Regions from separate parts of the Homo sapiens genome. Here region 2 is linked to region 1. The links come from fine-mapping of genetic effects on gene expression. A gene starts in region 1. The other region holds a variant in brackets. All regions are shown on one strand. Distances are from middle to middle. Region 1 holds the start of POPDC3 (popeye domain cAMP effector 3). Region 2 overlaps POPDC3 (popeye domain cAMP effector 3).

Region 1 (16,389 bases):
TTAATTAAAAACCTGTCCTCATGGAGCCTGCATTTTAGTGAAATTCCAATGTTAACACTATTTAAGTCCAGTTTTCAAAACTGTGATCTATTTTAAATATTACTAACTAAAAATACACCTTATCTACAAATAAACTACCTAACACTTATTTCGTTTATTTTATTATATTAGAGATGGAGTCTCCTTGTGTTTCCCAGCCTGGTCTTAAACTCCCAGACTCAAGTAATCCTCCCATCTTGGCCTCCCAAAGTGCTGGGATTACAGGCGTGAGCCACTGTGCCCAGCCATTAAAACTCATTTAAAGTCAGTTGTTGCAAAGCCAAAATTGACAAATGGGATCTAATTAAACTAAAGAACTTCTGCACAGCAAAACAAACTACCATCAGAGTGAACAGGCAACCTACAAAATGGGAGAAAATTTTTGCAATCTACTCATCTGACAAAGGGCTAATACCCAGAATCTACAATGAACTCAAAACAAATTTACAAGAAAAAAACAAACAACCTCATCAACAAGTGGGCGAAGGAGATGAACAGACACTTCTCAAAAGAAGACATTTATGCAGCCAAAAAACACATGAAAAAATGCTCATCATCACTGGCCATCACATAAATGCAAATCAAAACCACAATGAGATACCATCTCACACCAGTTAGAATGGCAATCATTAAAAAGTCAGGAAACAACAGGTCCAGTGGAGAGGATGTGAAGAAATAGGAACACTTTTACACTGTTGGTGGGACTGTAAACTAGTTCAACCATTGTGGAAGTCAGTGTGGCGATTCCTCAGGGATCTAGAACTAGAAATACCATTTGACCTAGCCATCCCATTACTGGGTATATACCCAAAGGATTATAAATCATGCTGCTATAAAGACACATGCACACATATGTTTATTGCGTCACTATTCACAATAGCAAAGACTTGGAACCAACCCAAATGTCCAACAATGAGAGACTGGATTAAGAAAATGTAGCACATATACACCATGGAATACTATGCAGCCATAAAAAAGGATGAGTTCATGTCCTTTGTAGGGACATGGATGAAGCTGGAAACCATCATTCTCAGCAAACTATTGCAAGGACAAAAAACCAAACACCGCATGTTCTCACTCATAGGTGGGAATTGAACAATGAGAACACGTGGACACGGGAAGGGGAACATCACACACTGGGGCCTGTTGTGGGGTGGGGGGAGGGGGGAGGGATAGCATTAGGAGATATACGTAGTGCTAAATGACGAGTCAATGGGTGCAGCACACCAACATGGCACATGTATACATATGTAAAAAACCTGCACGTTGTGCACATGTACCCTAAAACTTAAAGTATAATAAAAAAGTCAGTTGTTGCATACTAAATTTTAAAGAAATGCTACATTTTAAAACAGTCTAAAGTCTTAATGAGATTAGAATCATTATCTTAAATTTCCTTTCATATCTGACCAAGTATTGATCAAGGATGCTCCACTAGTTGGTGGGTTTCCATGCATTACCAAGATTTAATATAAACTTGAAAATGAACTCAAACAACAGAAAATAAGCTGAGATTCCACAAAATAAATTCCAAACAGAATGTTTTAAAGTGCTTCTGTTTATCTCTTTTTCTCATGGAGGTTAAATTTTCTTTATAACATAGAGGAAAAGGTACTAGCTCTCCTTCATGCATTGTGACTTCCAGAACAATTATAATGTAACATGTGTTTGGAACTTGAATTCTAACACCACCCCTCCTGCATCTTGAATGGAGGAGTAAGTAATAATAACCAGCATCTGTTGAGTAGCAACCCTGTGTCAGAACCTGTGTGAACTACTACATGTATATTATTTCATAGCTCCAAAAATACTGGGGGCAGGAGGAAGGGGTAGTTATTTTCCTATTTTTCAAGCAAGAAAACCTCTTTAAGAAAGACTTGGCCGAGTTAGAATCCAAATATCCTCATATCTAACCTGCTTCTGTTTATACCATGCTACACTTTCATTTATAAATCAGTTACATTTTAATCATTTTGACAAGTACAGTGAATGAAGAAAACAGGAGAAATTAAAACAAGATAACAATCATTATGGAGAATAAAGATGAGACAGTGTGAGAATAATTGGTGTCTTTGAAGTAGAGAATTACAAAATTGGAAAGAAAAAGCATTCATAATGGGAAAAAAAAAAACCCTGAAATTAAGAACAACAGATTATTCCAATAGAAAGAACAGAAATAGAAGGAATGCACCAGGTTCCATGAAAAATTGATACAGAACTTAACAAGGATATAGCCTGAATTACTACACTTCAGGAATATAAAGGATACTTTAGGACTCCGGGCAGAAAAAGCAAATCAATTGCAAGGAAGAAATTTTTTCTTAGATGGAGTTTTGCTCTTGTTGCCCAGGCTGGAGTGCAATGGCACAATCTTGGCTCACTGCAACCTCCGCCTCCCGGGTTCAAGCGATTATCCTGCCTCACCCTCGAAAGTAACTGGGATTAAAGGCGCTACCACACCCGGCTAATTTTTTGTATTTTTAGTAGAGATGGGGTTTTACAATGTTGGCCAGGCTGGTCTTGAACTCCTGACTTCAAGTGATCCGCCCGCCTTGACCTTCCAAAGTGCTAGAATTACAGGCGTGAGCCACTGCGCCCAGCCAGAAATTTTGAAACCAAACTTAGACTTCTCTACAGCTACATTAGATGCTAGCAGTGAATGGAGCGAAGGCTATATAATCCGGAGGTAAGGAAACTGGCTCAAAAATGGTACAGCCAGCCAAATGGTCATTCAAGTACAGATGCTCCCCAATGTACAATGAACTCATGGTAAGCTGAAAATATCGTAAGTTGAAAACACACGTTTGACTTACAGTTTCTCAATTTATGACGATGATGTGTTTACTTGGGTGTAACCACACCGAAAGTTGAGCATACTGACTGTGTATTGTCTCTGCACCATTATAAAGTTGAAAAATGGTTAAGTCAAACCATTGTGAGTCAGGGACTGTCTGGAAAGAAACATGGGCATTTCAAACATAAAAAGACACAGGAAATGAGCCCTTCTTGGAAACAAACAGACACACTGACAAAATCTAGCCAATCAAAGGATGAATCAAAAGTTGATACTTGAGATGCCATGGTAAAAGAACCAGTGATTCATCGTGATTTCATTTAGTTATAAAACTAAGACTAAATTATATCTGAAATGGCCAGGCGTGGTGTCTCACACCTGTAATCCCAGCACTTTGGGAGGCTGAGGCTGGTGGATCACGAGGTCAGGAATTCGAGACTGGCCTGAGCAACATGGTGAAACCCCATCTCTACTAAAAATACAAAAATGAGCCGGGCGTGGTGGCACACGCCTGTAATCCCAGCTACTCAGGAGGCTGAGGCAGGAGAATCACTTGAACCCGGGAGGCTGAGGTTGCAGTAAGCCAACAATGCTCCACTGCACTCTAGCATGGGCAACAGAGCAAGACTCCATCTCAAAAAAAAAAAATTGTATCTGAAATGAAGTTTACAAAACACAATGCAAATGTTATAGATCCTCACAATATAAACATATTTTTAAAATTGGGGCTGGGTATAGTGGCTCATGCCTGTCATCCCAGCACTTTGGGAGGCTGAGGTGGGAGGATGCCTTGAGCCTAGGAGTTTGAGATCAGCCTGGGTAACACAGTGAGACCCTAACTCTCCAAAAAAAAAAAAAAAAGCTGGGTGCCATGGTGCATGCCTGTAGTCCCAGCTACATGGGAGGCTGAGGTGGGAGGACTGCTTGAGCCTGGGAGGCTGAGGTTGCCGTGAGCTGTGATCATGCCACTACAGTCCAGCCTGGGTGACACAATGCGACCCTGTCTCCAAAATTAAAAAAATAAAAAATAGGCCAGGCGCAGTGGCTCATGCCTGTAATCCCAGCACTTTGGGAGGAGAGGTGGGAGGATCACCTGAGGTCAGGAGTTTGACACTAGCTTGGGCAACATGGTAAAAGCCCATCTCTACTGAAAATACAAAAATTAGCCGGGCATGGTGGTGCATGCCTGTAATCCCAGCTACTTGGGAGGCTGAGGCAGGGATATTGCTTGAATCCAGGAGGCGGAGGTTGCAGTGAGCTAAGATCGCACCACTGCACTCCAGCCTGGGGTGACAGAGTGAGACTCTGTCTCAAAAAATAAATAAAGAAAGAAAGAATAAAAACTGGGATATGAGTAGAAGTGAAACTATAGGTAATGTAAGAGTGCCCAGTGCTCCATCCTTTATAACAGGGAGCCTCTGACTGTCTAAATTAATGTATGTTTAAAAAATCTTGATCTCAAGATGTATTCAGAAACTTTTCTCTTAGTTTGGAAGACTTGTTTATCTCTAAGAATGAAGAAATACTGATGTCAAGTTCAGCAATTCCTTCACTTTCACTACAGTTTCTTCTGTTAAAATATAATTTTTTTATTTTAAAAAGCATATATAGTATCATCCTGTTAAAAGAAAAACTTTAGATAAATTCAATTTAACAGTTTACCTGAGCAACAAACAACTCACGAATCAGGCAGCACTCACAACCAGAAGAGGTTCACAGAGCTCTATCCAGCAGCATGAGCTGCAGTTTTTATACACTGATGACAGAAGTAAAAAACCAAAATCACTCGATTGGCTACAGCTCTGCATCTGCTTTATTTGGGCATAATGTGATGAGCTGGCCGCCTGTGATTGGCTGAAACCTGGCTATTACAAAAAATACACTGTTGAGTTAGTTTTCTGTTCGTTTATGTACAAAGTTAGTTTTTCACACAGGGACTCAAAGTAGGGAGAAAGACTCAGGCTAATGGCCTCCTGCTTATTTAACAATTCTATTTTTTATAAAAGCATTTCTTTTTAATCTTTTGACATATCGTTTTTTTTTTAAGACAGAGTCTTGCTCTGTCACCCAGGCTGGAGTGCGGTGGCGCGATCTCAGCTCACTGCAAGCTCCGCCTCCCAGGTCCAAACAATTCTCCTGCCTCAGCCTCCCAAGTAGCTGGGACTGCAGGCGCACGCAACCACGCCTGGCTAATTTTTGTATTTTTAGTAGAGACACGGGGTTTCACCACGTTGGCCAGGCTGGTCTCAAACTCCTGACCTCAGGTGATCCGCCCGCCTCAGCCTCCCAAAGTGCTGGGATTACAGGCGTGAGCCACCAAGCCCGACCAACATATCCTATTTGTGTAAAAATAGAAAGACATACGCAATGATTTTCACTTCATGTTAAAGATGAATATATCTTGATAGTGGGATAGAAACTATTTTTACCTTTTTAAAAACAGCTGCATTATTTGTATTCTTATAATGATTTTGGGAAACAATATGGTGATTTTATACCAATGTAAAAAAATTTTAAATATAAACATTTAAAAAAATCCATGAACCCAACAACCAGAATTAACAACCATCAACACTGTCATATTTTCTTTAGATTGTTTCATAATAAAAAATATTCCACACAAAAAATTGAAGACTGCCATGGATTGTTCTCCAGGACCAGTCGCTGCCCATCCACTCCCTATATAGTACATAATTTATATTTCTCTATATTTAAATATTCACTAATTAAAAAATACAATGTAAAATGAAACAGACAATGTAAAATGAAATCCTGGACTAGAAATAACTCAAAGTGTGGGGTTTTTTTTTCAGATTCACACTTAAATTTTTTTCTGATAATTTTGAACACATACAAAAATAGAGAAAATAGTATACAACAAATTCCCATATACCTGTTACCCAGATTCAACAATTATCAAGATTTTGCCACACAGAATTTTGAAATTAAAAGCAAAAGCTGTTATCTACAGTTCAGCTGCAATTTGTTCAGCTAGGAAACAAACACCTTCCAAAGAAGACAGGAAGAACCAAGATCAGCTGTGCTCTTTCTCTGTGCAGGTACTAATTCCTAAAACAGATCCATTTAGGAGTCACAGCAACTCTGAAACCTACATACTATTGTCAGCATTGTTCAGAGTGGAAGATGAAGCTCAGAGGGATGGAGATTCTTCTGTAAGCTTAGCCAGTTGCTTGTCCTTCCAATACTACCCCACAACACCTTCCTTCATGATCCCATCCTAGCCAATTTCAGTGTGCCAGAGTCACTGGAGGTTATTATTCTGTTGAAGAACACAAAGTAAGAAAGTCTCGCTAAAAGTCTGTGTGAATCAATCCCTGGATTCTCTGGGTTGGAGGAGGACCCTGCATTTTTATAGGTAATTTCAGTCAGGAACTTTCGGTTATTTATTTAATTTAGAAAACACCTGATGTAATTTTCCTTGTAAGACTTTTTCTTATAACTACTTAGATAAAAGGGAGAAACATTTTCTCTCTTCCTTTAAAACAATCGAATCGGTGATTCGATATACTCTTCTATTAATTGGAGGGACATTCTCTCGAGGGAGCTCATAATCCCAACTGACCAATGACCATAATTACAAAATGTGATCTCAACTGCAGTTTACAGACTTTCAGATCTATCATGGATATTTCCAAAGCAGTTTTGAAATTTCTTGCCTGCCATGTTGCTTATGTGTTATGCTCACATACTGTAGCAAATGCTTCATAACATTCTTAATTCTTCCTGGAGACTGTTTCAAAATAAGCAGGCATCAGTGCTCTAGTGTGTCAACCGTATTAGTCAGTCTTGTGGTGAAAAGTATGGGACTTTTGTTTCCCATGACACATTTTTATTTAATAGCATAGAATGTAACCATTTAGAGGCAGAAGATGCACCATGATTCAGCTATTTTGAGGGACTGATATGATTAAAGAAACTCAACTATCAAATATTTCCCATTTAAATGTATAAAATTTTGAGGACAGAGAATATCTTAGATTTCAATTAATATTTGTATCCCAAACTCCTGAAGACACACACACACACACACACACACACACACACACACACACACACACAGATTTTTCAGGACAGAACCTCAGAGATATCTGGAATCTGGGATCAGCCAGAGCTCTTCATTTTGCGAATATGGAAACTGAGATCCAATTTTTTGTTTATATTTTCTGTCTCATGTAGTTCTTGTTTGGTTTTCTATTGTCACAAAGAACAATGCCAAGTTATTGTACTCTCACAAGAGGATATTTTCATGCAACAGTCCGTAGAATTAAAAACAAGAAGGAAAAAAAATAGCCACTAAACTTAGTATGAACAGGCAACAATAATTTTTTAAGGCTGCTATAAAACTCAATTGCAGTTTGTAGGCTTGCAAATTCAAAATATCTAACTACCGGAATTAGAGTGAAAAGTCAGGAAGCAACGAAGTTTAGTAAATCAAATTGCGTCCAAAAGTGGGCTTCTAATTCTACTTTTCCATTTATTATTTACAAACAGAATTTTTCACTTTCTGCAAATGTCTTCTGGCTAAATTTTTGGCACTGCCCCTCTTACTGTATTTTGGTTGTGCCTTTCATCTTTGCCTAAAATACAGACCCTCAAAACTATACCACTGTAACCGACATGGTGATAAGACAATTTAGGGGTTGGCAAATTTCTTTTTTGGCAGGGGGATCCCCAAATGGAGAAAACAGGTCCGCGCGACCTTTGATGAGGCAGCTTTTTTGTACCCCCAACTCTGTGAGAACAGTGTGAGAGCACTGACACCAGTCAGGCCCTTTGCTTACAGACCGGGGGCGGGAGTAGGGGGGAAGGAAACTCCCGGCGCTGGCATGACTTCCCCAGGACTGACAAGGGCCCCTAGGAACGGCTTTTCTCCCTTGCAAAACTGGCCTGTTTATTTCGGCTCCAGGGTGCCTGGGGCCAGAGTAGGACCTGCAGGAAAAGATCTGGGAGGAATATTCGCCCAGAAGCCTCTAGGGCATACGACTCGCGTTCTTCAGGGGTCGGCGCGGATAGGAACCGCAGCAAAGGATCCCCTAGACCTCCGAGCTGTGAGCGGCGACACAGCCGGGACCCCAGACCCCGGACCCCAGGGCGCGGAGTTGACCGGAGCCGGGAAGGGAGCGGCGCGGGCAGCGCGGGGCAGCGAGACGCAAGCGCTCGCAGGGGTCGGCGGCCCAGCAGAAGCCGCGCCCGCTAAGTTGCCCGAAGCGGCCGCGAGGTGCGAGGGTGCGGACAGCACCGGAAGGCGGCGGACGCAGCGCCCCCGGGCTCACCTTCTTACCTTTCCTTCCCAGCCCTGCCCGGAGCTTCAGCCCGGCGCCCGCAGAAGTTTCCCGGCGGAGCGCGCTTGACCCGGGTGGCCCGCGCGGAAGCCCTCAGCGTCCCCCTCGTGAGTGCCTCGCCGCCCACCCTGCGGCGCCGGGCGCAGCGTGACCGCAGCGGGCTCCGGAGCGGCGCGGCGGCGCGGGCGGGTGCCGGGCACGGGCGCGCGCCCCGGGGCGCAGCCGGGTGGGCGGGCGCGGCGGCTGCGTCTGGGCCGGGGCAGGCGGTTCGGCCACCGGGGTGCGGGGCTGCGGAGAATCCTAGCGGCCGCTACGGACCGAAGTTTCCAAAGATGCGGTTCCCCGAGTGTACACCGCTCCCGGTTGTAACATACACCTAGTATTCACAGTCACACTAGGCAGGAGCGATGGGCTGGCTGCTGAACCAAGGCAACTGCACGCCTGCTCTCTCACCCCCGCTCCACACACACCGTAAACAAAATGAAGAGGTAAATCACCATAGTGGGGACGGGAATATTAGGGTGTATTGGACAGAGAGAGAGAGAGAGAGAGGTAAATATAGTATTTTTTTTTTTTTTAGAGATGGTGTCTCGCTCTGTCACCCAGGCTGGAGTGCAGTGGTGATCACGGCTCACTGCAATCTCGACCTCCTGGGCCCAGGCATCCTCCTGACTCAGCCTCCTAAAGCTTAGGATTGCAGATGTGAGCCACCGCACCCAACCAATAAATACGGACTGTTGCATGAAAAATAAAATATCTATATTCAAATCAATGAACATCTCTAAAAGCAAATGAGTAAAGGGCATAGACAATCATAAAAGGAAAAAATTTAAAAACACAAATGACAAAAAGCTCATATCAGTAATAACCAAATGCATACAATTTTAAAGCAATGATCAGGTGCATTTTTTCTTCCTTTGCAATTAGCAAAGTTTTGTTTTGTTTTTGTGATGAAACAAATGTGAGGGTTGGTGACGACCAGTAAAACACGCCACTAATTTAAGAATGTCATCTCCTGTCTTCTAGTTCGCTTTCATTTTATATAACCATATTGATAACAGCGACTCCAGGAACAAGAATTTATTGAGCAATCAGTGTCTTTTTTGAGCCCCAGGGTAACCACAAAAACAGTGAATATAGATGGTAAAATTAACTCCCTTTAATTGATGCTGGAACTGAGGATCAAGAAATACACATATTCTTACACCCCAGAAATGGCTAGAAACCAGTTGACTCCTAGGCCTTTGCTCTTTCTCTTCATTGCAGGGATTTACTCAAATGTTGGAAATCCAGTTTGAACTGGATGTAGTCCATAGTGTGTGTGTGTGTGTGTGTGTGTGTGTGTGTGTGTGTATATATATGTATATATATATATATACACACACACACACCTTTAAACTATGGCCAGGGAAGTGAGAAGCCCATGAACTTTGAGGTCAGATGTACTCTGGATTTAGATTTTACTTGTTTAGTGTCCTACATTTTAAAAATTTAAGGATTATATTACTGTTATTTTTAATTTAAAAACTCAGAAGCTGTTACTGTTGCCCTGGATTCTTATGATCTCCCATGATAGAGATTAACAGAGATCACCAAACATAGCAGCAAAGGAAAGTGTATTCAGCTTGTGCGCAAGGGAGTCAGCACCAAGAAAGGCAAAGGAACGGACTGCTCTGAGGATAGTGTGTGGGTCAGTTTTATAGGGTCTTTCTATAGGGGAGGGTTACATCAGGGCACCTATAGGAGGAGTTTTTCTAGTGCTTGCACAGTGGCCCAATATGCTTTTTCATACATCATATGTAGCATTAGCATTTTAAATCTCCACCCCAGGAGTAATTTTTAGCATTAAAGTGAGGAAGGGGTAAATGTAGGTTGGAGTTTAAGTCTAACTGTACAGGCGGGGATCTGGGGAAGTCCCTAGCCCTCTGAAATAGGAGCTTGCAGTTAACAGCTTCTTGGGTGTTTTGTTACCTATTGACTGAGAGTTAGATAAGCTAGAGCTTGAGTAAGGAGCTTTTATCCTTTTTCACCACACCATCTTAAAATAGCTTTCCTGTCTCAATGCAACAAAGATATCCCTGTGTGACAGATTCTTCAGTGGCCCCAATAGTTTCTGATTCCCAGTACCTGTTCATGTTCATACCTGTGTTAGATCCCCTCCTCCTAAGAGGGGTTGGGACCTGTGACTTGCTTCTGAAAATAAATATAACAAAGGTGATGGATATCACTCCCATGACCACATTACATTATAAAAGACTGTCTCTTATGAACAGACTCTCTCTAGAGACTGTCCGGTCTGGCCTGATGAAGGCAGTGGCCATGCTTGGAAAGTCCACATGGTGAGGAACCATGGGCAGCCTCTAGGAGCTGAAAGGCAGCTTCCGGCCCATAGCCAGCCAGCAAGAAGTCCTACAAACTCCAGGAAATGAATTCTGTCAACAGCCTAAGTGAACTTGGAAGTAAATCTTTCCCCAGTCAATCATCCACATGAGAACACAAACCAATGACACCTTAATTGCAGTTTTGTGAAACCCTGAGCAGAGGATCTACTTAATCCATGCCTGGACTCCTAAATGCACCCCCCGACCCAAATTTTGAGAGTATATACAGAGTGCGATCCCTCTTTGAAAATTTTGTGTTAAATACTGCTGCCCTGCTGCATTCTGATTTTTCTCTTTCTTACTCCTTCACATGTATTTTCTTGCCTTGATCATGGCAGAGTTCTCTTTCTCTGTATCCCTCATTTTTTGTTATTATACATTTTATTGTATAAGTAATACATGAATATAATTCAATATACTAAGATATATTGCTTGGCATTATACTGTATCTGCCAACTTTCTTTTCCAGACAACAAAATACCTTGAAGTTCATTTATCTTTTCACATATATAGTATATATAAAATTCTTCTTTTAAATGACTATATACTATTATATTATTAGTATGTCTACCTGAAATAATGGAAAGGATCAGAATCCAGTTTAAAAGCATTTTTCCAAGTGAAAAGCTGAGAATGCCATTCAGATAACACAGACTCCAAAGGAATGGAGTTAGTGCTCCAAAGTTAAGATCTTGCATATACCAGCAGAAAACAAAGAAACTTAGTAGGATTATAACATTTTCTATACAAGGCTGGTTTATGACTTACAACAATTTAATTAGTTACAATTTGTTTTCTTTTCCATACAGCTTGTTTTCTTTTCCTATTTAAAAGAGTGTATTTAACATTCCATCTTAGACAATGTGATAGTCATGAAGTCTGTGTGAGAGAGGAAAGAGGGAAGTTACTCTATAATGAAGATCAACAGTTAAGAGAGAAGGGGTCTTCCCTGGTACCCTTTAGTCATTTATAACATTTTACAAAACAACATAGGTAAAGACAAAGGCTAATCTTAATCAGAAAAACAAAAGGTCACAGCTGCCTACTTTATAGCTGCCTGTTTACATGTGACTCAGATCCCATAATCAGATTCCCTTAAGGCTCAAAATGTTTTAAAGTTCCAACAGCTTAGATTTTTACTTGTTTTCACAAACATATCACAGTGCATCCATCCTCTTAACTATTTAGGTTTTTTGTAGTTTTTTTTTTTTTTTTTTGAGACAGAGTCTCATTGTGTCACCGAGGCTGGAGTAGTGTAGTGGTACAATCTTGGCTCACGGCAACCTCTGCCTTCTGGGTTTAAGCGATTCTCCTGCTTCAGCCTCCCAAGTAACTGGGATTATAGGCACCTGCCACCATACCTGGCTAATTTTTGTGTTTTTAATAGAGATGGGGTTTCACCATGTTGGCCAGCCTGGTCTTGAACTCCTGACCTCAAGTGATCCACCCGCCTTGGCCTCCCAAAGTGCTGAGATTACAGGCATGAGCCACCGCACTGGGCCTATTTCTAGCATTTGATATAGCAAACAAATGCTGTGTGCATGCTCCTTGGACACATATGTGATGATTTCTCCAGAATATATGCTCAGAAGTAGGGCTCTGAGTATGTTCATTTTCATTTTATTTGCTGCTGACAAATCGTGCTCCAGAGTGTCTGTGTCCATTTATATCCCTACCAGGTATGTAGGAGAGTGCTCCTTCCTGCACTCTCCTTTCTTCACAACCCCCAGTGACACCTGATATTACCCAACTTTAAAATTTTTGCTCTAACTCTCTTTCATATTCCTGTTCTCCTCTCTTGTTTTGCATTTTCCTTTTCTTCCTCCTCCTTCTCTCTCTCTTCTCTCATGTTTCCTGCCTCTCTTCCCTCTCTTTCTCAGTTTTTTCTCTTCTTTGGTTTGCTCTTTTGCTTTGTAAAAATTTATAATTTGTTTTAATTTAACATTTATAATCTTTAAAATTTAATTTATAATTTATTTTATAACCTGATTCATAATGACGATTATGAAAATATCTGTCAGCAAATATACATTTATAAAATAACTGCCAACGACTGCAGTGGGTTGTACATTAGCGGCCAACCATCTTTTAAAAAAAAAATTTGATGTAAAATAACCATAACATAAAAGTAACCATCTCAAAATGTACAAGTCAGTGACATTTAGCACATTGAGTGTTGTGCACCAAACACCTCTATCTAGCTTCAAAACATTTCATCCCCCCAAAGGAAAACTCCATACACATAAAGCCTTCACTTTCCAATTCCCCTTTCTCCCCTGGGAACCACTGACCTGCTTTTTGTCTCTATGGATTTTCCTATTCTAGATATTTAATATAAATGGAATCATACAACATATGACATTGTATGTCTGGTTTCTTTCACTTGGCATCATGTTTTTGAGGTTAATCCACATTGTAGCATGTAGAAACTTCTTCCTTTTTATGGCTAAATAATATTACATTGTTTATTATGCCATAGTTTGTTAATCCATTATCTGTTGATGAACATTTGGGTATTTCCACCATTTGACTATTGTGAATAGTGCTGCTATTAACATTTGTGTGTAAGTTTTTGTTTGAATACTTTTGGCTATACACCTAGGGGAAGAATTGCTGGGTCATATGGTAATTCCATGTTTATTTTTTTAAGGAACTACCAAACTGTTTTCTATAACAACTGTATCATTTTGCAGTCCTACTAACAATGTATGAGTGTTCTTATTTCTCCACATTCTTGGCAACACTTATTATTTTCTTTTTTTAAAATATAGCTATTTTAGTGGGTGTGAAGTAGTATCTCATTGTTTTGATTTGCATCTCTCTAATGACTCATGATGTTGAATGTCATTTCATGTGATTGTTGGGCATTTGCATATCTTTAGAGGAATGCCTGTTTAAGTCCTTTGCCAATTTTTCAGTTGGGTTGCTTGTCTTTCTGTTGTAGAGTTGTAAGAGTTCTTTGTATATTTTGGATACCAGACAACCTCTATCAGATATATGACTTTCAGCCCGGGATGGTGGCTCACGCCTATAATACCAGCACTTTGGGAGGCCAAGGTGGGAGGATCACCCAAGGTCAGGAGTTCATGACCAGTCTGGCCAACATGGTGATCCCCATCTCTACTAAAAATACAAAAATTAGCTGGGCGTGGTGGCGGGCACCTGTAATCCCAGCTGAGGGAAGAGAATCGCTTGAACCCAGGAAGCGGAGCTTGCAGTGAACCAAGATCATGCCATTTCACTCCAGCCTGGGCAACAAAGTGAGACTCTGTCTCAAAAAAAAAAAAAAAAAAAAAAAAAGATATATAACTTTCAAGTGTTCTCTCTCTTTCTGCGGGTTGTCTTTTCATTATCTTGATAGCGTCCTTTGATATCCAAAAGTTTTTTGTTTTGTTTGTTTTGTTTTTTGAGACAGAGTTTCACTTTGTCACCCAGGCTGGAATGCAGTGGCACAATCTTGGCTCACTAAAACCTCCACCTCCTGGGTTGAAGCAGTTCTCCTGCCTCAGCCTCCTGATTAGCTGGGACTACAGTTGCATGCCACCACACCAGCTGATTTTTTGTATTTTAGTAAAGACGGGGTTTCACCGTGTTGCCCAGGCTGTTCTTGAACTCCTGAGCTGAGGCAATCCCCCCGTCTTGGCCTTCCAAAGTGCTACGATTACAGGCGTGAGCCACTGCACCTGGCCATAATGCCCAAAAGTTTTTTAATCTTGCTGATTTCTAATGTATTTATTTTTCTTTTGTTGCTTGTACTTTCTTTTGGGATCATATCTAATAATTCATCGCCAAATCCAAGGTCATGAAGATTTATCCGTATGTTTTTTGTAAGAGTTTTAGAAGTTTATGGTTTAAAATATTATATTTAGTTTATTGATCTATTTTGAGTTAGTTTGTGTATATCTTGTGGATACATTTTGTATCTATATTTATATATTTATATATACCCAACTTCATTGTTTTGCACGTAGATATCCAGTTGTCTCAGCAATATTTGTTGAAAAGTCTATTCTTTTCCTATGGAGTGATATTGGCACCCTTATTGAAATCAACTGACTATAGATATATGGGTTATTTCTGGACTCTCAATTTTAATTTTATTCCATATATTGATCTATATGTCTATTCTTTTTTTTTTTGGGGGGGACACAGTCTCACTCTGTCACCCAGGCTGGAGTGCGGTGGCATGATCTTGGCTCACTGCAACCTCTGCCTCCTGGGTCCAAGCGATTGTCCTGCCTCAGCCTCCTGAGTAGCTGGGATTACAGGCACGTGCCACCATGCCTGGCTAATTTTTGTATTTTTAGTAGAGACGGGGTTTCACCATGTTGGCCAGGCTGGTCTTGAACTCCTGACCTCAGGTGATCCATACGCCTGAGGCTCCCAAAGTGCTGGTATTAAAGGCATGAGCCACCGCATTGCCCAGCCTATATGTCTATTCTTAATGCCAGTACCACACTGTTTTGATTACTTAGTAATTTTTTTGTTTTTTTTCTAGTAAGTTTTGAAATCAGGAATTATGAGTCTTCCAAACTTTTTTTTCCTTTTTCAAGATTGTTTTGGCTATTTGTGGTCCCCTGCAATCCATATGAATGTTATGATTTGTTCCACATCTTAAAAAGGGTCATTAGTATTTTAATAGGAATTATAAAGATCTGTAAAACACTTTGGGTAATACTGCTATCTTAAGTCTTCCAATACATGAACATTTATTTAGGTCTTCTCTAATTTCTTTCTGCAATGTTTTTCATATTCAATGTACCAGTCTTGTGTCTTCCTGACTAAATTTGTTTCTAACCCTTTTGCTTTTGTTTTCAGTGTCCATCTATCTGCCCCCCTCCTTTTTTGGTCTCAGAAGCTGACTCTTTCCCTCATTAAAATATCAAGTCCATTTCATAGCTATAGATCAAAGCACTTCTTGTTGCTGTAAAGACTCCATCCACTTCCTTACTCTTCCTGCAATCTTGCTCATAGAAAGTCCTTGAGCTTCTCTCCTCTTCACACACGTCAGAGGCAAGGCTGTCAGAGCTGCTTCCAGAACTGAGAGTGACAATTGTTTTTTAGGTAGGTAGGAGCCCAGCAGGCCTTAGGGCAGCAGGACCTGAGCCGGAGATTTAGTCAGGAGAATAGGAAACCTTTTGAGATGCAGTTCAGTAAAGCACACTACTATATGAAGTCACTCTGATGTAGAAGTTGCTTTAATATGTGGGAGTGGTGAATGGAATATGTCTAATTTTCTACCTTATAAGTAATAGTTGGCTTGTTGCTAAGGTTTTCATTAAGAAAGCACATTTTGAAATTTAGTAGCCTGGCCGGTCACCAGTGGCTCATGTCTGCAATCCCGGCACCCTGGGAGGTTGAGGTGGGTGGTTTGCTTGAACTCAGAAGTTTGAGACCAGCCTAGGAAACACGGCAAAACCGTGTCTCTACAAAACACACAAAAATTAGTCGGGTGCAGTGGTGTGCGCCTGTAGTCCCAGTTACTTGGGTGGCTGAGATGGGAGGCTTGAGCCTGGGAGGTTGAGGCTGCAGTGAGCTGTGATTGCATCATTGTAGTTAAGCTTGGGCAACAGAGCGAGATCCTGTCTCAAAATATATTAAATAATAAAATAAAAAAAATAGTAATTCAGTAGCCTAAAGGGATTTTTGAATCACAAATTATATATGAGTTCTAGAGGGGAGAATTAATGTTCAGAATTAGTAGAGAAATGGGAAGTCATTGAAAAATAGAAATACAAACCAACAAAAGTGAAGAGAAAACAAGAAGATGAAAAGGTGGATTCCTCTGTAAGGACTTTAAGATTTTTATTGATTATTTTTCCATATTATAGTATGCTTCAAACCCAATTCTATTAAGAAATTGTAGTTGAAA
Region 2 (16,389 bases), 23 kb before region 1:
GACTTAACATGCTGGCATGTGATTCCCAGCTGTTTTAAGGTGACGCTACAGATGTGTGATTCCCTAGAGCCATTTTTCTCTATCTCTGTTATGGCCTTTATTACTTGCTACCTTTTACATATTTATGTAAAAGACTTTTTCTCCCTCCAGGTCAAAAGTTTCTGGAGGATAAGAAGTGTATCTGATTTATCTTTCGTATCTCCGTGGTGCTTAGCACATGATTTACATATATTTGGAACTCGGTAAATTCTCCAATAGAACAAACAGTAAATCTTTTTAAAAATCATGTTTTACAACTTAAATTATTATGAATGGGGAAAACAGTAGAAGAAATGTATACCAATATGTTAATAGAAATTGGGTTAGGATAGTGGAATGATTGTCTTTTCTTTTTTCTATTCTAACTTGTTTATAATACATTATTTTTCTAATAGAATAAATAACAAAGTGACACTTAATATTCTACCAGGTCATATTACTTTATTAGAATTATGGTGACGTCTCACCATGACAGTGACACCCCACCCCACAGCCCACCCTCATACTCCCCATCACCAGCGTCCTCTCCTCCCCTGTCCTGTCTAGCTGATTAATGATGGAACAGGAACAACTTGAAAAAGATACGTTTGGAAGGAGTGGAAAGAGCTGGTGGAGCAGAGGGAAGGTTTAACCATGAGATTCATTCAGAATTCATTCATTCATTCAGAAACACTGAGTGGTCTGATAGGTGGGAAATGCTTGGGGTCAGACCGTAGCAATAGGGGAAGAATGCAGAGGCCTCCAAGTCAGAGGCAGCAGCAGAGCCAACCACACTCTAGGTGCCATCAGCCCAGATACCCAGAGACCAACTACCCAAGCAACATTGCATTCGATCCAGGGAGGAATTAGGAGTTCAAGATCACCCTGGGCAACATAGCGAGACCCCCATCTCTTAAAAAAATATTAGCTGGGTGTAGTGGCGCATACCATGGTAGTTGCAGCTACTGGGGAGGCTGAGGTGGGAGGGTCTCTTGAGCCTGGGAGTTCTAGGCTGCAGTGAGCCGGGTCGTGCCACTGCACTCCAGCCTGGGTGATGGAGTGAGACCTCATTGCAAAAATAAATACAATTTAAAAAATAAAATATAATAACTGCCTAAAATGGAAAGAAACATCTTTTTAAAACATTTAAAAATTGTTATGGGTACATAATAGTTGTATATATTTATGGGGTACATGTGACGTTTTGATACAGGCATACAATGTGTAATGATCAAGTCAGGGTAATTGGAGTACCTGTCACCTCAAGCATTTATCATTTTTTTGTATTGGGAACATTATAATTCCACTCTTTTGGTTATTAAAAATATGCAATAATTTATTGTTAACTATAGTCACCCTATTTATTGTGCTACTGAATACTAGATCTTATTCATTCTATCTAATTGTATTTTTGTATCCATTAATGATTCCACTTCATATCCCCTTTACCGACTACCCTTCTCAGTATCTAGTATCCATCATTCTACTTTATATTTCCATGAATTCAGTTTTTTTTTCAGCTCCCACAAATGAGTGAGAACATGCAATATTTGTCTCTCTGTACCTGGCTTATTTCACTTAAAATATTGTCCTCCAGTTTCATCCATGTCGTTGCAAATGACAGTATTTCATTATTTTCTGTGGCTGAAAATTTTGTCTATATACCACATTTTCTTTATCCATTCATCTGTTGATGGACACTTATGTTGATTCCATATCTTCGCTATTGTGAATAGTGCTGCAGTAAACATGGGAGAGCAGATTCTCTTCGATATACTGATTTCCTTTCTTCTGGACGTATACCCAGCAGTGGGATTGCTGGATCATATGTTACTTCTATTTTTAATTTTTTGTGGAACTACCATACTGTTCTCCATAGTGGCTGTACTAATTTGCATTCCCACCAACCTTTCTCCACATCCTCACCAGCATCTGTTATTCCCTGCCTTTTTTGTAAAGGCCATTTTAACTGGGGTGAGATGATACCTCATTGTAGTTTTGAGCTGCATTTTTCTGATGATTAGTGGTGTTGACTATTTTTTCATATACCTGCCAGCCATTTATTTGCATGTCTTCTTTTGAGAAATGTCTATTCAGATCTTTTGCTCGTTTTTAAATTGGATTGATTTTTTTCCTATTGAGTTGCTTAAGTTCCTTATATATTCTGGTTATTAATCCCTTGTCAGATGAATAGTTTGCAAATATTTTCTTCCATTCTGTGGGTTGTAGAAATGTCTCTTAAATGGCAGGATCAAATGTTTGTTTTCTGCCATCCCTGGGAAAAGGGTGTGAGAGCCATATTATTTAATTTATCATTTAAAATGGAATTATAGTCATCCTTGGGTATTGTGGGGGATTGGTTCTAGGACCCCCTCAGATACCAAAATCTGAGGATGCTCAAGTCCTTGATATAAAATGGCCTAGTATTTGCATATAGCATACAAACATCCTTCCATATACTTTAAACCATCTCTAGATTACTTATAATACCTAATACAATGGAAATTCTATGTAAATAGTTATACCATATTGTTTTTATTTGTATTATTTGTAGTGTTGTATTGTTATTTTAAATTTTTTCCAAATTATTATTTCCAAGAAATAGTAATTCTACATCATGCAGGAAAAAAAATGCTATTATTACAGGCCTTACATTTTATTTTGGATCCAAGGTTGGTTGAATCTGTGGCTGTGGAACCCTCACATACAGGGGGCTGACTGCACTTATGAGGGACATGATAATCCATTACATGTTTCTGTTAAAAAAGAAAATTTAATTGGGAGGCCATTAGGCTGAGGTGGCTCCAGTGCCTTGGGCTCCTATGTAAAAAAACCAAAGCCCAGTGTAAACAGTAAAACAAAACTTAAGCTTAACCAATCAGAAATTGCCAACCAGCCTCTAACTAGGGACTTTCCACACTAACCACTGAAGTATATTTTCTTTGTCTTGCTTCTGGACCTTATAAGTTTCTCTCTTGCCTGTCCCCCTACAGTGAAGCTCTGAACCACTTGTAGCCTAGTGCTGCCTGATTCATGAATTGCTGTCTGCCCAAATAAACTCTTCAAAATTTTGTTTTGCCTAAGTTTACCTTTTAACATTCCCAACAAAGAATCTCTAAGCAAAAATCATTTTGTAGATTTTCAATTCAATAAATGATCTTGGAACCTAAAGACTAATAACTGTGCATCCTGAACAAGTGCTGTTCAGACTCACTTCAACAGTATCAGCAAGAAAAAATGTGACTTTGAAAGTCATTTAAGGAAATAATAATTCTATATCATAAAAAAATGCTATTATTATAGTTCTTACATTTTATTTCATGAGAAACTACTAGTGGCACTGCATAATTGAAATCAACTTGAGAAGGGAATTCAATGTTAAAATTCAAATACAAAAATAGATGCAATTGGCTGGGCATGGCAGCTCACGCCTGTAATCCCAGCACCTGGGGAGGCTGAGGTGGGAAGATTGCTTGAGCCTAGGAGGCAGAGGTTGTAGTGAGCCAAGATGGCACCACTGTACTCTAGCCTGGGTGACAGAGTGAGACTCTGTCTCAAAAATAAAGATGCAATTAATTTCCTTCTATGCAATGAATATTTACAAAGCAGCTACCATGTGCCAGGCATTGTTCTCTAACAGTGAAGAAGATATAGACTAGTGGAAGAGTTTCAGAGTAGAATTCCTTTTCTCATAAGATGGACATTGTGCTTGTGCATTGGTTAAACTTTTATCTCAAAGGAACCAACTTATATTCTGCAGTAATATCCTGTTCTTCAGAAACCCCACTTGTATTACACCAAAAATTTCTTCCACATCTTGGAACCCTTACCTGGTGCTATTTGAAAAAACTTCAGCTTTTACAACGTTTCATTGTACATAAAGTTTTATTCTACCTGAGAGAAGAAAGAGAAGTAGCACTACAAGGGGCACTGAATTAATTTTCTTATAAGAAGGAGTGGATGGCACATAAAACATGATGGGCTGAGATAATGAAGGCTTCTCTCTAGGATACCTAGAGAGAGACCTCAATTGAGCTGTGATAATATCTGAATGAAATTGGACAGAACCAAAACTTTAAAAACTGATTTAAACTGCATCAAAGAAACTTGGCCTTGTTCTTTCATTATGTAAACTTATAGCCATTTAAAATAGAGTTACACTTAATGACACATTTTACTTGTAAACCACATTTGAGCTCAAGCTACTGCTGATGATTCAAAAGAAGAAAGGTTCATGTTTGAATAATTTTTCCTCATGCTGTCACTAACAGATTTGGAAGATGTGTAACTAGCATTTTGGCATTGAATTTTCCTTCAAGTCAGACTGGGGACATTTTAGTACTCTCCAAGTCAGGAACACAGTCAAGAACATGGTCAGTGCAGCATGAAAAATGCAAGGACACTGATTTAGAAGAATTAGGCTTAAGCTGAGTGTCACCACTGTTTACTAACTGTGATTCAGTCTTTCTGATTTTTATCCATAAAATGGGATCCTTCCAAGGAACAAGCAAATGAAATCACATGTAGGCATGTGCTTCATAAACTATGAAGTGTTAAATAAATGTAAGACATTGTTTTGTAATTATATAATTTGTGAGGTAAATTTACATTTAATAAGAGTAGTAATCTCAATTCTGATGGCCTGAGACACTTGATATTATATCAAGTGGAGCTAAAATTCTATGAAATTATGTAAAAACAAATATTTTAGAATCTTATAAATAAAATAAAATTACTCTTATTAAGATCACTAAAGCTTGAATTGGAATAAAAGAAAAAAGGGGACAATTACAGTTCAAGACACAAATTATCAGTTCTTAGGGAGAAAAGTGTTTTAAAGTTCCCTGCCAATCTTTAATAGCTAGTAGGTTTTAAAACTAGTCAAATTTAGCATAGCAATAAAACTTGAAGTTATGTTCAAATCATGCTGATATTATATGCAAATGTACAATTCAGCATTACAGTCATGGTAATACTTACGATGAGATGACTAAGAGTTAAAGTAACCAGTGTTTCAGTCTTGCTGCATCTTTTCACAGCTGTGAGAGTTCCGGTCTTGAAATAATACACAGTTCTATCAAATTAAACCTGCATTTTATTATAATAGGTCTATATCATACTAATGCTTATTTGTATTTTTGATTGATATGTATGCGTTAAATTTTAGTAGAATGAAGAAAAACAGTGGAATTAATTGGACCCATTGATCTCTTTAACTTGTATAAAAACTGTCTTTTACTAACAAGTAATACTAAATTGGCACATCATTTCTGAAGTTTAATTTCTCTAACAATGTGCAGTATAGGAAGAACATGGAACCCGATTAGAAAGTGCCATCCAATGCTGCATGTATATTTATGGCTTTTGTCAAACCAAGCATCTCACATACATAAAATTGTAAACGTATTGCTTTTACAATAATATGTACTGTCTGCCTAGTTTGTTTTTCTTATGGCTCTTGTCAGCTGAGGAAATTTCACTTTGTAACTGCCCTGTTAATTCTGCCTTTCTGGGTCTGAGCAGTGTAACAATGTGGCATCCAGAGCTTATCCAGATGAGCGGAGAGCAAATGAATTTCCTTCTGCTCCCCTGTTGAAGAGGAGAGAAAAATTCTTCAAGCTGTAAGTGCTCAGAGAGCATCATACTATTCTTTACAGTAGACTAATCTCAAGACCATGAGTTCCTAGGGGCTGCAGAGTCCAAGGCAAATCCCACTGATCCTTTCTCATATTTGCACAGGGGTCAAATCAAGTTCAGAGGAATAGCCCCATGGGGATGGGAAGCCTCCAGATATGCAGGTAAAGGAAAGGCCATGCAAGAGAGAAGCCTGCAGCCTCCAGGGACTTGCTTTGGCGACTGGGGTGTGGGGTGTTTACGGCCTCATTTTGTGCCAAAGCCACTCTCTTTTCCCGGACTCACTACTTCTCAGAGTCCCTCCTGACCATGAAAATTAGGACAGAAAATCACAAGGCAGTCACCCCAATTTCTTAAAGTCTAGGAACAACTCAGCTAGGGCCAGCTTCCTGGGCATGCGACCTGTGCAGTCACAAAGGGCTCCAGGCTTACAAGAGCCCCGCACTTGGCATAATGCTCTGCCATCTCCATCTTGAAATTCTTAAGACTCTTTGAACAAAGAGTCCATTTATTTATGAATATCCAGATCTTGTATACAAAGCCATAAAGCATTTTTAGCACAAGAACACAAGCTGTTGCTCATCTTAGTGCACTCTTATCAATGACAAGAGAACCAAAGGATGGAAATAATTAGGCTAAGACTAAAATGAGCCCAATTTTTAATAAAAATTAAATTTTAGGGGCACTATGATACAGAGGTCAGAGGTATTTTTCTAGGATATGTGTCATTTCTGCTTTCCATCTGGTTTGATTATTTTGAGATAGTATGTGGTTTGCTAGACATTTCAAACCAGACATACAATACAGCTACCTAAAAGTCACTGTAGGTTTTTGATTTTTTTTTTTAATAAAGTGAGAAAACCTGAGTGCAAACCTAGGTATTGGATAATAGCATATCTGTTAACACCAAGGAACAGTGCCAGCCCTATACAGAAGTGAAGACTGTGAAGTTTCAAAGCATCCCTTTACCTCCTCTTTCAGTATCCCTTTATCCCATTATGTTTGTACCCCTTTCTCCTTATAGTAAAAATAGATTTCTGGGAAACTTACATATAAAATCTTGTCCCCTCTGCCACTGAGTTGAGCCAAAAGTCTACATCCCATTTCTATGTGGCTTTGTTCTCTGCTGACTTTAATGGTTAGAAAGCTATCTGATAATTAATCCCTGTAAAATTATTACCTGGTAGTACTAACTTAAGATGTGACTTCTACCTGGGATGCTCTGCATTTTAATACTTTATAAATATCTCAAAGTCTTAAAGATTCAAGAAATGAATTTCTCCCAGAGCCATTGTAAAGCCCACTGACAAGCCAGTGGGTGCTTCCTGAAGGCCTTTGATTGCATCTGGCAGACAGCTGCCTTCGTGTCTGCTTGGAAGAGCTGCCCATGATGGCAATGTGTGGCCAAGAAATAGAAGAAACCATTCCAGTGATTCCTTTAGTTCATGCTAAACTTGAATAGCTCAGTAGTTCATCCAGACTAATGATTTACATCTTGTCACATTGTCCCACTTATGGTAGATGCTAACATACAGGAAAAGCAACGTCCTTTACATAACCCCAGTACTTCCTCTCCCGTTCTCCTTGCTGACTTTGCTTCCTAGGTCACCGAGAAAATGAAAATCACTGGAGAACTTTCACAATCTCTCACCACATCTCCCACTTGCCAGCAACTACTCTCACAGATACTCTTCTCTTTTCATTCATGAAGAATTGTCCATATTTCTCTTTAAGGCCACTGGATCCCATCACCTGCTCAAGGTCATCACTCCCGCAGTTCACTCCTCACTTATGGATTATTTCCATCTGCATGCAAATGCACCATCTTATCTGAAAATCAATAACAACCCCCTCTCTTGACCCCACTTTCTGCCCAGGCTACTGATCATTTCTATTTCAGTTCACATCAAAACTCCTTGAAAAACTTACCTACCCTTACTGTTCCAACTTCTTGCCTCTCATTCTCCTTCAACCTGCTTCAGTCGAGTTTTTGTTCCTGCTCACTCCACCAAAACTGCTCTTGTTAAGTTCCCCAGTGACTTCCATGTTGCTTAACCCGATGGTTCATTCTCAGGCCTCTCAGCCACATCTGAGACAGTTCATCACTCCCTTCTCCCAGAAATTCTCTTTGCTTGGCTTCCAGGATCCCAGGCTCTCCTGATTTTCTTTCTACCTCATTGGCTGCTCTTCCTCAGATCCTTTGCTGATTCTTCCCCCATCGCTTTGTCCCCTTAACAATGGAGTGCTCCAAGGTAAGCCTCAGACCATTTTTCTTCTGAATCTACACTCACTCTTTTGGCCATCTCATGGAGACTCATGGCTTTAAATACCATGTATATGCTAAATACTCCCAAAGCTGTCTCTACAGCGCAGACTTTTCTTTGAAACTCCAGGCTCATATCTCCAGCTGTCTACTCTACTTCAGCGTCTAGCAGGCATCTCACTCTTAATCCTCATTTTACTTTCCAAGTCCACTCTTTTCTCTCTTCCCCCTAGTCTATTCTCAGCAGGCTAGCCAGAGTGATCCTATTAAACCATGGGGCAGATCATATCACTCTTCTACTTCAGACCCTACAATGGCTTCTGGTCACTCTTAGAAAAAAATCAAAGTCCTTACCATGACTTATTTAGGCCTTACCCAGTCTGCCCACGGTTACTTTCTGTTCATTCTGTGCCAGCCAAACTAGCCTTCCAGCTGCTCCTGGAACAGGCCAGTCATGTTCATGCCTAAGGGCCTGCTCAGTTGCTGTCCCCTTTGCCCAAATTGCTCTTCCCTCAGATATCTGCATGGATTCTTCCATTGCCTCTTTCAGGTCTTCATTCAGACATTCCTTTTTGTGGATACTTTCCTTGACCACCCTATTAAAATTGCAATGCCCTTTCTTACCCACCTTCTCTAATTTATCACTCCCCTTGGTACTATCACCTTCTAAACATTTACTGATTTACTTTATTATGTCTCCCGCATCCCCAGAATGTAAGCTTTATGAGGGGTGGGATCTCCATCTGTTACCTGATGTATCCCCATGCCCATGTCAGCCATAGAAGGTGCTCAATACACACTTGTTAAATATTTGATAATGTATCTCTGTATCAAAGAACATAGTCTGCATGTGATCTTCAGAAAACCAGTTTTCCAAAGGAAGGGATCAGATCTCCAACTAGGGTTCTTTCTTAAGCTCTTCACAAAGCTGAAGCACTCGCTGTGAGGCAGACCCTTGTGTTTGTGCGGTGGGCTGAGCATTCCCTGTGAACCCTCGCTGCCCATTCACACCACTGAAAGCTCTTTCTGCTGAACACGTGAAACTGAAACACCGTGCAACATTTTTACTATTGGTTCAGGAGTACTCTTTTGACTTAGTAATGATCAGGCAGCTTTGTTTTCCAGGAAATGCTTCTTTTTAAATGTTATTTTATTTGTAGCAATAAAATAGGCTTCAAGATTCACATATTATTATCTCTTGCATTTATTCTACTTTTTAGTCGCATCAAGTAACTGCACATTTAAAATAAATAATTGCTTTCACTGGAGGTTGTAGCAAAAAAGTGAATTCCGGAAATGCCTATGTGGACAGTAGCAACCCACCCTCAGGCTGAGAATACTTGCTGGCTCTTTCTTGAGAAGCAACTCCTGAGTC[T/C]ATAGGGCAAGACAATGCATTTGAGTAAATGTGAGAAAAGAATTGAGAAAGTGGAATTTCATTCTCCCAGTTTTGATGCAGAAAAGGGCAAACTGCCCATAGTTATCCACCCCCTCCCCAATTATAACAATGAGAAATACAAGAAAAATTTGTAAAGTTTATTCACAATGCAGTTGTTGAAAGGAATAAAACAGTTGGCAATGGCATCTCGCTTCTGAATTTGATTTATAAAAACATTAGGGAGCTCTTTTTTTGTATTTTGCTATTTCACTGGGGAATGATGAAGAGAGAGTCTTTTTTTATACTTATAAATTTCAGACTTTGATGTCATTTATCACAGTATCGTCTGGAATTCTGAAAATGTTGTGTCAGGGGTGATCTGCGTATTTCTGGAGTTGACATTTGATAGAAGTTGGGTAGCCGAATATCATAGTGATATCTTTTTCCTATATATACCCTGTCATTCAAGGCATAGAGTTTATCTGCAATGTCACTGCCAATTAGCACTGAAAAAAGGCGGGAGATGTAGCGATGCTGAGCAAAGAGCAGATATAATTTCTTTCTCCTCCAAGACACATATCGACAATCAGTTTCTGCAGTGAGGGTTACCTAAAAAACACAAGACCACACATAAACAGATGTGGAAGCAAGAAAACTTCTGCCACATTTTTAGTACCCCAATTGTTAAATTAATTTCACGTGCTGCCTTTTTTTTAGGTTGAAAAAGCCCACTGACCTACAATATATTGCAAAAATAGAAACTACAAAATTCGTTACTACATACGTAATTTATAATATGAATAATCACAATGTTCTAGCCATCTTCAATCTGTCTGTTTTTCTAAGTTCCAGTATCTACATTTCTTTTATTGAAGGGAGAACTACTTGATCTTAAAAAAAAAAAAAGTTGGCTGATGTTACAGAAATATTTCCAAGTCACTTCTGAAGACTGTGGACATTTAACCCTAATGCAGTTTCTGCAGTAGAAAACAGAATTTATATACCTAATTTGCATACATATTTGAGTTTGTTGCATACACACATATATTTGTTAGAAAACTGTGTAACAAAATAAATGAAACCTGCTGAAATGATTATCTTTCAAAACTGCCAGACGTGGCAGCAGAGTAATGACAGTAAGTTTAGCATTCTGTTGCTGTAAAACAACTGAAATCCACTGGCATTTTAAATTTTAAAAATCATTTATTTTTTAGTAAGTGCAGTTTTTTGTTCTTGATGTTTTCTAGACGTCGCATTAGCAGTGTTTAGTCAAATCTCAATTATATTTTAATTCCTAAATACGCAGTTATGCAAAGTAAAGCTTAAAGTATTGATCACAGCCTCCTTCCTGTCATATGTAGCACCTGTTCTTCTCATCGCTGGACCTATAAAGTGGCATTAATCATCAAGAGTCCAGCAGAATTGGGAAAGTCATGTATGCTGCAAAGTACATTCCAAAGTCTTAAAATATTCTTGTCTTATCCACTGTTGTTTATTTGTTTACTTATTTTTAAACAAACATCTGTTTGAAAGAGGGAGTGCTAACTGTGTGTTCTGGTATCCCTTACCTGAAAAATGCCTTCCTCTGTGGGTCTCAGTGAATCCCACTCAGGAGAATCCAGGAACTGAAGGGGGAAAATGTAATGCAGAAATTCGCCATCAACTGTCACTCTGATCCTATCAAAACACAAGAACAACATTTATAAGGGAAGGAGAAAGAGAGCACATAATTGGGGAGGGGTGGGGGGTAGAGGAAGTGTATTTCAGATCCCTGATGACTCTTGCCCTTTATGATTTTGAAAGGCAAAATATTAAATTCATACATTATAATAAGTGACATAATGTCCTGTAAGATTCATGTTATCATGTTCCTTATACAGTCAGGATTCTGGAATATTGAGTGAAATTCATCAGAAAATTCATCAAGTTGTACATTTATATATGTCCATTTATGTGTGCATATTATACTTCAATAAAACATTTTAATGGACTTTGTCAGATTTTAAATTAAGTAGGGAAACATTTAAGAACATAGAGGAGTTCTGCAAATACCTCTGTAAACCAAATTTTTATTTTTTATTTATTTTTTGACAGAGTCTCACTCTGTCGCCCAGCGTGGAGTGCAGTGGCACAATCTGGGCTCCCTGCAACCTCCTCCTCCCAGGTTCAAGCGATTCTTGTGCCTCAGCCTCCTGAGTAGCTGGGATTACAAGCGTGCACTACGATGTCCAGCTAAGTTTTTTGTATTTTTAGTAGAGACAGGGTTTCAACATGTTGGCCAGGCTGGTCTCGAACTCCTGACCTCAAGTGACCCACTAGCCTCGGCCTCCCAAAGTGCTGGGATTACAGGCGTGAGCCACCGCGCCTGGCCTGTAAGCCACATTTTTAACTTTTTGAAAACCATGAGTAATCCCATTATTGTTTCCTCTCCCAAACTTTGTTTTCAAAGTTTATTTTATTTTATTTTTGAGATAGAGTCTCGTTCTGTTGCTTAGGCTGAAGTGTAGTGGCGCGATCTCAGCTCACTGCAACCTCCGCCTCCCACGCTCAAGCAGTTCTCCTGCCTCAGCCTCCCGAGTAGCTGGGACTACTGGCATGTGCCACCATGCCTGGATAATTTTGTTTTTCTATTTTTTCAGTACAGATGGGAGTTTCACAGTGTTGGCCAGGCTGGTCTTGAACTGCTGACCTCAGGTGATTATCCTGCCTCAGCCTCCAAAAGTGCTGGGATTACAGGTGTTTTTGGGATTACAGGTGTTAGCCACCGCACCTGGCCTGTTTTCAAAGTTTAGATTTCTATATATGTTCCTGAAGTGTCTCCCCAGCCTGCTTCTCATGGGCAATTGCTAGAATTTACTGAAGAAAAAAAGATAATAATAAAATTTAAATGTTTTCTGTTACTTAAAAGAAAGCCCTATCAAAGAGTCTTTAAAATATTTTGCACGCCAATATAAGTATTCTATTAATTCAAGCTGACATCATCCTCTTCTCGACTTTCAGTAATTAGGAAACAAATATCATATCACATAAACAAATTCATACTTTATGTAATTTGATTTCTAAGATGAAATATTAAGGCTCTTGATTATTTTCTGCTTCAAGTAAATAATGCCATATATTCTAAATGGCTATGTCTGTGACTCAAGTATCAAAGACTTCCTCAAGCCTCAGGGTGCTAAATGCCACCCAGGACTATGTGATACTGAGATGGAAAAATATAGTGGAAAGAAACACAAACAACTAATACTTGAGGAAAGACATGCAAGCACCAAAGGTACAAACCTTCCTGAAACAAGCAAGGAGAGTTTATCAATGGAAGTTTTCCCCTGCATGGCATAACAGTGTTCCTTTTCCAAAGTAACCACTTCAGAGCTCAAAGCAATCGTTCTGAAGACAGGCAAAGAGATCCCCAGGGGCTGGAAAAGGGAGCTGTACAACACTTGGAATTCTCGGGCAAAGGTTATGCTGCGAACTTGATATGCAATATGAACAAATTGCATGAAGCAGATGACAAACAGTACAAAATTCCAGGAAAATATGTCAGCTGCACAGACATCTACCCAAGCCCAGACAGCAGAACAGAGAAAACCCAACCCCAGCAAACTGAAGACATAAAGGAGCCCGAAGAATCCACTGCCACCCATGAAACCTACTACAAATAAAATACTGGCAAGATGATAAATGGCTCCTTCGGCCTCTTGCTTCCAGGTTGTGCAGACTGGGTGTTCATCTATTAGGTTCTTCCATAAACTTGAATTTCTTTCCATGGCTGTATTACTGCCTGCTTCACTTTTCAGTTGACTTTAGATGACACTGAAACAGGTAACTAAGTCCTTTGGTTCTCCATCATGAGAGTTTTGTGCAGTCTTCACAAAACCAGAGAAAACGGACACTGGAGTTGATGCTGATTAAAGGCTTCGTGTGTACGGATCTTGAAAAACTAAGAATCCCATGCTCGCTTCTTTAAGTTCATCTGGGCTCCTGATTTGGATCCAGTCTGCAAATATTTTGGTATTTCCTATGCAAGAGAAAAAAAGATAAAGGATCTAATTAAACAAAAAGGAGAATTGTGGGGTATATTTAATGATCAGCAGCATTACTTAGCAAGCTGACCTCCCATTTTCTATGAAGTTAGAGTATTTTAAGCACAAATGCTGTTGGGTGTTAAATTTCTATGGTATAAAAAGTATATTTATTAAAATTAGCTACATATTTTTCAAGGTAGCTAAGTGCTCTATATTAATCTCGTCTCTATGGGAGTGATTCAGTGTACCTCACAATCACTCGGGACAGTGACTAAAAATGCGGGCCGGGCGAGGTGGCGTGTGCCTGGAATCCCAGCCCTTTGGGAGGCTGAGGTGGGTGGATCACTTGAGGCCAGAAGTTCGAGACCAGCCTGGCCAACATGGCGAAACCCTGTCTCTACTAAAAATAGAAAAATTACCCAGGCGTGGTGGCGTGCGCCTGGGATCCCAGCTACTCAGGATGCTGAGGCACAAGAATCACTTGAACTTGGGAGACAGGCTTCAGTGAGCCGAGATCATCTTACCACTGCACTTCAGCCTAGGCGAAAAGAGTAAGACTCTGTATTAATACATATATATATTTGCAGATTCATGGACTGCTTCCAGATACATGAACCAGAATCATTGCGGGTGGGGCCCAGATGTTTGTATTTTAAGCTCCCCATGTGATTCTGATGTGTTAATCCATGGTCCTCCATGGCCCACCCTTTGAGGGATACTGTCTGATAATAGATTATTCACTCTTTACACATTAATTTGAGGCTTAGAGAGGTCAGGTAATTTATCCCAGGCCACACAGTGGTCACTGGCAGAGCAGAACTTTGGCGCTCATGCCCATATGCTGGGTCCAATCGTGTGGCCTCTCAGGAAAGATTTTTAAATTTGGCATGATAAGGAACCCTACTATATCAATAAACATAAGAAACATAATTAGAAGTCACATTCTAAGAGCATTAATTGACTATGGAAATATTTAATAAATTAGATTGAAATTATTTGAGAAACAAATGTACTACTTTGTTGTATTAGTGGTTATTTCAGGTTAAAGCTTGCATCATATGATGAAATAAATATTAATATTCCTGTTACTTACATATTTATTTATCAGATGGTCAAAAATATTACCAACTCTGTTCCTCTGCACATACATTCTCTACCCTTTCAGCCATATGGTGGAAATGCTAATATGTAATCTGAGTCAGGAGAGCATTAGCCATGATGACAGAGCTACAGGATATATGTATCATTTGCCACCCAGTTTCCTAACAATAAATGATTTCAGTGTAAAGCATTCATGACATTGATTTTTTAAAACCATGGTAACATTCAAAAGCCTTGAACTTGTGTGCTATATTTAGTGTTTTATTTTTGAAATAGATTATTTCCAGCACACCTGTTAATAAACTATCAGATATCACAGATCTTGCCCCATAGGAGAAAAAATACAGAGGTGAAAATGACTTAGCTGGAGTAAAAAATGGAACAGTGTAATCACCAACAGAAGTAGAAATGGAAATAAAGGAGCTGTTGTTGAAGTTCCTGATTTTTCATCTTGGATAGTGATTCTTTTCTCAGTAAGTAATGACTTCAAGAACACTGCCAGGTGAATCATTTAAAAAAAAAGAAAAAAAAAGCTTAGACTTACAACTTATAGTCATATTGTTGTTTTTGCTTGTTTTCAAATACATTTCAAACATGCTGCATATCCCTAATTATTCTCCCCATCAATCAATCTACGAGATGATGGTGATGAAATTGAAGACAGGCCAGCATCCTGAACATGTTCAATTTCTCCTCTTTTAAACAAAGCACAAAATTTTATTCTACTGGGTATTACAACAAAGAAAAATTATTGTTCAAATACAATGAGTAGTGAGAACTGCAAAATACCAGGCTGCAAATGTCAGTCTCCCTGCTGTTTCAAAACTAGGGTATTTTAAATCAATCAATTCTTCAGGATACCAAACACACCCACGAAAGCCAGTTTAAAAAGATTTGCTAGTGGAGCTCTGAACTTTGGTTTGAACTTCCTTAAAAATTTATAATCCTCAGCGAAATGTTAAAATGATGCTAATAGAGAAAGGCCATGTAAAACGTTCGTGGCAATTCAGAAGGGAACTTCTGGGAATCCTGTCTCCTTAAAAATCTTGATTTGTAGGATATATTGGGGCTTCTGCATTCCAGGGTCATGACCCATTATGATTATAAGGGGAACTGTGCTTCCATCTTTACTAATCTACTTCGTTTCATTCAGCTGTTACCAAACCATCTTTTTATCCTTGATACTGTACTGCTCAATGCAGCGTGCTGACTTGCCCTGATTAAATTACTCCACACCCAGCCCTTCTTCACTTGTGTTTTTATTTGGTCACCAAAACAGATATGCTTTATTAGAAGTGGAAGAACTGACAGGGGCAGGTGATGAGCAGGAGTGTCCTTCTGACATGTGCCAGCAGCACTATATGAATGTCCAACATGATTCATCAACCAGCTGTCTGCCTTAAAGGCCTGTAAGCCTGAGGTCATGTTTTGCGTAAATAAATGCTGACATGCCAAAGTGGCACAATGGATTTCTTTCCTAAGCACTAGAGTTGATCTTCACTGCAAAGTAAGTTAGCACACTGAGCTACAAATGATGAAGACAAACTTAAGTGCAAATAAACACAGTTGTTCCAAGCTCATCTGGGTTTTTTTCTCTTTAAATTGTTAAGATTACGAGTTATAAAGGAATAGGAAATGTAAATGAAGATACAAGGATGCTCAATGAAATGCAAAGTAAACCTGCTGGCAAATTAGCTAGAAACTGCATTTATTGCAACAGAACTTCTGCATTTATTATCTCATTGCCACGAGGGAGGCAGAATCTAAATCATCATGTCCAGCTTACAAATGAGAAAAGAAGGGCACAGATTGGTTGAGTCTCTGGCTTCAGGTAAAACAGGTGGTGGCATGGAGCTCCAATTCCCGTCCGCCCCTCTTTAGACCCTCTCCAACATTCAGTGCCAGCTCTCAAGACTGTGAATCAAATATTAATGTTTTGGGGAACCCAAGTGGGATATTCTTCCAGGGCTGCT

What was found.
Region 2: its variant is fine-mapped to the expression of POPDC3 in left ventricle (GTEx, PIP above 0.99). The same link has a PIP of 0.9 or more in tibial nerve.

The regions. Positions count from the first base shown.
Region 1 is chr6:105,171,698-105,188,086 of GRCh38, forward strand. POPDC3 (popeye domain cAMP effector 3) reads right to left here and starts at 8,317. Exons shown (of 4, transcript NM_022361.5): 1 at 8,136-8,317.
Region 2 is chr6:105,148,853-105,165,241 of GRCh38, forward strand. It overlaps POPDC3 (popeye domain cAMP effector 3), which reads right to left. Exons shown (of 4, transcript NM_022361.5): 2 at 12,573-13,308; 3 at 10,859-10,967; 4 at 9,048-9,899. The coding sequence starts at 13,057. The coding sequence ends at 9,618. The region is part of intron 2 of POPDC1-AS1 (POPDC1 antisense RNA 1); the gene reads left to right. Among named protein-coding and RNA genes, the nearest start is that of POPDC1-AS1, 19 kb to the left of the region's middle. The variant T/C (reference allele first, on the strand shown) is at 9,291.